Homo sapiens: one gene and its partner. The protein of the gene in region 2 purifies or fractionates together with the protein of the main gene of each other region. This does not show direct contact. Each region holds a gene or a part of one and is shown on either strand. Other genes may lie near its edges.

Evidence for each region.
Region 1: the proteins of ADCK5 (region 2) and FABP1 purify together in Homo sapiens (co-immunoprecipitation; one large-scale study listed by IntAct). This does not show direct contact.

Annotation. Positions count from the first base shown.
Region 1 is NC_000002.12:88,122,482-88,125,062, forward strand, and holds the end of FABP1 (fatty acid-binding protein, liver), read right to left. Parts: intron 2,106-2,581; coding exon 2,013-2,105; intron 624-2,012; coding exon 573-623; 3' UTR 501-572; downstream 1-500.
Region 2 is NC_000008.11:144,376,846-144,380,864, reverse strand, and holds part of ADCK5 (uncharacterized aarF domain-containing protein kinase 5), read right to left. Parts: intron 3,469-4,019; exon of another isoform or gene 3,375-3,468; intron 1,479-3,374; coding exon 1,375-1,478; intron 1-1,374. UniProt on the Homo sapiens protein: The function of this protein is not yet clear. It is not known if it has protein kinase activity and what type of substrate it would phosphorylate (Ser, Thr or Tyr).

The DNA of each region.
Region 1 (2,581 bases), on a different chromosome or scaffold from region 2:
CCTGCCCATAGCATGGAGGGAACTTCCACTGAGCCTCCTCTGTCCACTTCTGGCGCCTCTCACTAAGCCCTTTGCTCAGCCTCCCACAGGAGGAAAAGTTTATTGGGCGGGTCAGTGTCGACCTTTCTGCACCTGTCTGCTGGTGGGCTGGTACTGTGGCTGTGCTTGTGGGTATAGCTCTCCTTTTCTGCCCAGTCTTCCTGCTCCCTGTCCCCACAGAGAGCACCCTCAAGGCCAGCCCACTGCACATCCTCTGGCTCCAGCTCCTTGCCCGTGTGCCTGACTGGGAAAGGGCATTCCAGGGCCTTCCTGCAGATCTAGCCACACCTGGCTTTCCTGGCAGAACACCTGGGTGTGCAGCATGGGTTTTGTGTTCAGGGAATTACTCTTCGGATTTGACCTGGTAGTGTGGATCATGTGGATTATCAACATTTACGAAAGTATATTTACGAGAATATGGTGAGCAATAGCACCATCAATGAAAAGGCATTGAGAAGACATTTTTTTTTAAAACAAAGTTCACTTTATTACATTAATTTTACACACTAAAATAATATGAAATGCAGACTTGTTTAAATTCTCTTGCTGATTCTCTTGAAGACAATGTCACCCAATGTCATGGTCTGAAAGCCAGAAAAGAAATTATGAAGTGTTCATCTGATGTTGTATTGTAAAAAACAAAATTAAGCATAAAAAACAAAATTAAGCTTAAAAAACAGCACCAAATATGTTGGCATATGAAACAATTCAAAAATTCGTCTGGTTTCCTGTAGGACCGGAGGAAAGGTTGGCAATGTTTTCCAAAATCCTATGCCAAGTCTTTGTCACTTCTCCTCCTCACCTGGAAAGTCCTCCTGCCTTTGACTGAATTCTTTTCTACATCAATGACTGTTATAGCAAGACCATCCAAACCAGCCCAATCTAATTTCTCAAAATTTCATTGAGTACCTACTATGCACCAAATACATGTTGAGCACCAAGGATACATGTACATGGACACAACTAGGCACACAGCCTGGAAGGCAGTGGGTAGTGCATAATTGTCCTCCTATAGCTGTGAAGCATATAAAAACAGTGGATGCATCAGCTTTTGAGTTTTTAAGGATGTTTCCTCCACCCCTGCCAGTTCTCTTGAATAAGACTGCTGGAATGACATACCATGTCATCAGGGTGAAAAGGAGCCCCTCAGTTTCAGCAGCAATGCAATAGTTGCTGCTTGATGGGTTTGAGCCCTGGATTTAACATTTATTAGCTGATGACTTGGACAGGTCAACCTGTCTATTGAATCCCTCATCCAGCCTCCCTCGAAGGAGACAGGAGGATTAGGTGAGATGGAACCTATCAAAGGGCGTTGGCCAGGACTTACTGCAGGATAGCTCATCTCCTGCTCCCCTGCTCTCCTGGGAATGTGCTGGGGCGGAGGTGGAAACTGCACATTGGGTGGTTGATGCTCACACTCTCTCTAGTTTAAGAATTTTTCCATTTGAATAGAGTGATGACAGCGCCCTGAGGCAGTGTTCTGTTGTCTGTGACTCCCTAAAGCATATTCTGGGGGCAAAGAAGAGTCAGGGGGACATACCTGCAGGAGAAACACTGCACCATTCACCCCCAAATAGGGTACAGGATGTGGCTGGCAGCCAGGCACCAAGGCTGACTGCATAACTGGACTGTGCCAGGCTTGTAAGCTGCCATAATATGACCATGAATGGGATTCTCTTTATAAACGCTAAATGGGCAAAGGCATTTATGAAGCACCCTGGGCATGCAGGGCAGGTGGAGGCCTCTGTGGCTGGTTGGTTGCGCTGAGCAGAAAGGATTAGTGATAATGTGTGTAAACTGCCTGGGACATGATGGATCCTCAGTAAGTGCTGGCAGATACTGACCACAGGAAAGAAGTTTGGGGGTTGGAGGGTGGAGGGGTGGCATTAGGGTATGTGAGCCGCTCCCCATGCTTCACCTCCCCTCTCCCCTCAAGCACTGGGAGCCACACGCTCAGAGCACCACCAACTTACATTGGTGATTATGTCGCCGTTGAGTTCGGTCACAGACTTGATGTTTTTGAAAGTTGTCACCAGTTTATTGTCACCTTCCAACTGAACCACTGTCTGCAGGGAACAGAGAGGTGACCTGTGAGGAAGGGGTGGTGGGGGGCAAGAGCCTTGCTAATGAAGTTGCTTCCTTTGCACAGGTCTCAGCTCATAACAACCAAAATGCTCTGGTTCCTATGATCCCAAGCCTCTAGTTCTCTGGCTCCAAATAGAAGTGAGGTGCATTTAAGAACTAAATAAAATGTCACGACTTCTTTTGTCAGAACTTTAATTCATGGCATGTGATCTAGAAATGAGCATGGAACACCTAAGTGGCCCCAAATACAAATGCTAAAATCAAATCAAGTAAAATCTCAATTCTCCCAAGCTAATGGAGGGAGGTAGTGGCAAAATTCAAATATTGACCAGTAGAGAATACATATTTTGCTTTGGTATGTATTCTTCTTTTTTTTTTTTTTTTAATTGAGATGAGGTCTTGCTATGTTGCCCAGGCTGGTCTTGAACTCCTAGGCTCAAACAGTCCTTTCACTTCA
Region 2 (4,019 bases):
GGCAGGTGCCTGAGCACACATCTGTTTCTACACCCAGCCCATAATCCTGAGTGGGGCAGGTGCCTGAGCACACATCTGCTTCTACACCCAGCCCATAATCCTGAGTGGGGCAGGTGCCTGAGCACACATCTGTTTCTACACCCAGCCCATAATCCTTAGTGCGGCAGGTGCCTGAGCACACATCTGTTTCTACACCCAGCCCATAATCCTGAGTGCAGCAGGCGCCTGAGCACACATCTGTTTCTACACCCAGCCCATAATCCTGAGTGCAGCAGGCGCCTGAGCACACATCTGTTTCTACACCCAGCCCATAATCCTGAGTGCAGCAGGCGCCTGAGCACACATCTGTTTCTACACCCAGCCCATAATCCTGAGTGCAGCAGGTGCCTGAGCACACATCTGTTTCTACACCCAGCCCATAATCCTGAGTGCAGCAGGTGCCTGAGCACACATCTGTTTCTACACCCGGCCCATAATCCTGACTGCGGCAGGTGCCTGAGCACACATCTGTTTCTACACCTGGCCCATAATTCTGACTGCGGGAGGTGCCTGAGCACACATCTGTTTCTACACCCGGCCCATAATTCTGACTGCGGGAGGTGCCTGAGCACACATCTGTTTCTACACCCGGCCCATAATCCTTAGTGCAGCAGGTGCCTGAGCACACATCTGTTTCTACACCCGGCCCATAATCCTGAGTGCAGCAGGTGTCTGAGTGCACATCTGTTTCTGCACCCAGCCGCAGGCGCCTGAGCACCCATCTGTTTCTGTAGCTGGCCGCATCTGTCCCAGGGACACAGGTTGTCCTACTGCAGAGCTCTCGGGAGAAGGAGACCCCTGCCAGGTTCACTGAGCCAGTGGCGCTTGGACAGCTCACCCTGCCTGCCCTGCCTGGCCACATCTACCCTCCACGGCCTTCCTGCCTTGCCACCGTCCATCTGCGCACTGTGGTCCGGACTTGCTGGCCTCAGGACATTGTCTGGCCTTTCCTTCTGCTCAGACCCATCCCTCCACATCTCTTCTTGCTGCTCTTCCTCTTGTGTGACTCCCACCTATAGTCACCCCGCCCTCCTCCATGCTCTGAATGACCCGGTTTGCTCTTCAGAGCAGGCGCTCCATGTGCACCCTTCCCGATTTGCTAGCTGTCTGCTCTAAATGCTGTGATCAGGGTGTGCCCACCCCTGAGCACGGTCCCATGGGTCCCTGGGGGTCTTTGGTCCCAGTGCACCGCACTGAGGAGCAAACATATCCTGCCTTGGTTGTGGGTACAGGAGAAGGTCCAGCCTTGGGCCCTCGACTGCCACCTCTGCATGCACACAGACGCCATCCATGCCTGCCTGGGTGAGAGGCGCATGCCCGTGGAGGACTCGTTACCTTGGAGGAAGGCCCCTGACGTTTCTCCTGAAGAACACAGCAGGGGACGGCCAGGGCTTCTGCCTGCTGTGCAGCAGAGCAGAGTGGAAATGACAGAGCTGCACCTGCAAAGAGAGGAAATTGTGTGGGGTCGAACGAGGCCAGGACACGCCCCTGCCCTCAACCAGTACCAGCACTTACATGTGCTGGAGTCTGAGGCAGCCTAACTCTAAACCTAATGTGTGAGTCCATTCTCACACTGCTCTAAAGAACTACCCAGGCCGGGCACAGGGGCTCACACCTTTAATCCCAGAACTTTAGGAGGCCGAGGCGGGTGGATCATCTGAGGCCAGGAGTTTGAGACCAGCCTGATCAACATGGTGAAACCCCGTCTCTACTAAAAATACAAAATTAGTTGGGCATAGTGGTGCATGTACGTAATCCCAGCTACTCGGGAGGCTGAGGCAGGAGAATCGCTTGAACCCGGGAGGCAGAGGTTGCAGTGAGCTGAAATCGCGCCACTACACTCCAGCCTGGGCAACAGAGCGAAACTCCATCTCAAGAAAAAAAAAAAAAGAACTACCCAAGCAAGACTGGGTAATTTATGAAGAAAATAGGTTTGTTTGTTTTTCTGAGATGGAGTCTCACTCTGTCGCCCAGGCTGGAGTGCAATGGCACAATCTCGGCTCACTACAATCTCCGCCTCCCGAGTTCAAGTGATTCTCTTGCCCCAGCCCCCCGAGTAGCTGGGACTACAAGCATACGCCACCACATCCAGCTAATTTTTGTATTTTAGTAGAGACGGAGTTTCACCATGTTGGCCAGGCTGGTCTAGAACTCCTGACCTCAAGTGATCTGCCCTCCTCAGCCTCCCAAAGTGCTGGTATTACAGGTGTAAGCCACCGCACCTGGCCTGGGTTTAACTGACTCACAGTTCTGCAGGCTGTCCAGGAAGCACCACTGAGAGGCCTCAGGAAACTTACAGTCATGGCAGAAGGCAAATGGGAAGCAAGCACAGTATGGGTGAAGCAGTGGGGGGGGCGGAGAGAGAGAGAGAGCAAGCGAGAGGGCAAAGGGGAAAGTGCCACACACACTTTTAAACCATCAGATCTGAGAACTCACTCACTATCACCACAACAGCAAGGGGGAATCTGCCCCCATGACCAGATCACCTCCCACCAGGCCCCTCCTCCAACACTGGGAATCGCGACTCAGATGAGCTTTGGGTGGGGACACAAAGCCAAACCACATCACCAAGTCAGTCAGCAAAGACTGCCAGCACCGCTGGGATCATGCCAGGAAGCCAGGTTCCCATCTTTGATTCCGTAATGGAAACACTATCCTACCTCCTGGGAGCAAGGCTGAGTGTCAAAGTATCATAGGAGAGAAGGCTAAACGCAGCTTAACCAGGGCTGATGCCTCAGATGCTGACAGGGCATCAAACATACCCCGTCTCTGAATGTCCCCTCAGTCTCTGCAGGAAGAGATGGCATCACCATCTGGCTCATCTGGGATGGGACCCACCCCATCCCTGCCCCTGCACTCTCTTGGCAGCACCCTGACCTGTCATTTACTATTTTACTATTTCCTGCTGCTGAGACCACTGACCAGTGGCCAGAGGAAAGCAGTCCTCATCTCCGAAGGAAGTGGCAACAGTGCCCAGCCATGGAATCATACAGCAGACGCCAACCTTGAAGGTGGACGCCCGGATGGGAGGAGTGGCCTACGTAGGTCACTGTTCTGAAAGCAGATGAAGAAACTTACAACTTACTGAGACCCCACAGACAGGGACCCTGTACATCTTTTACTTGGAGGAGAAGAGGACATGCTGCAGCTAGCAGGACACACGTAAAGAAGTCCCAAGGGTCAGGCGCGGTGGCTCACGCCCGTAATCCCAGCACTTTTGGAGGCCAAAGCGGGTGGATCATGAGGTCAGGAGATTAAGACCATCCTGGCCAACATGGCGAAACCCTGTCTCTACTAGAAATACAAAAAAAGTAGCCAGGTGTGATGGCGCATACCTGTAATCCCAGGTAGTTGGGAGGCTGAGACAGGAGAATCGCTTGATCTTGGTAGGCGGAGATTGCAGTGAGCCAAGATTGAGACACTGCACTCCAGCCTGGGCAACAGAATGGGACTCCATTTAGAAAAATAAATACATAAATAAAGAAGCCCCACCATGAGACTCTTGACACATGGCCCTGCTTTATTTTTGTGACTATGAAAACACCACATAGAACTTACAGTATTATTAAAAAAAAGAAAGAAAACACCACAGCTCTCACTGGAAACCTTGGTCTCCCAATCACACTTGACCTAGGATGAGGTCTCACAACTCCCCAAATTCCCCAACTGAGAGCTCTTCACACAAGTCACGGTTTGGGTGGAAAGGACTGTGCATAGCCAGTCATGCCCCGTGGCACAGACGCTAACATGGTCCTCAACACTGGACCTAGTAAGGAACTGACTTGCCAGCTGGTTTTTGGCCAGAGCTCAGAGCCCTGGAGAAAATTTTGAGGACTCCAAACAACATGAAAGCCAAAGGGAAAAGTCCATGACCTCTTATCCCTAGAGGGCGGGTTGACAGAAACCCCTGCTTGGCGAGGTCACATGCAGCAAGTGCTGATTCACAAGGAAAACCCAAGGCAGCCGGGCAGCGACTCGTA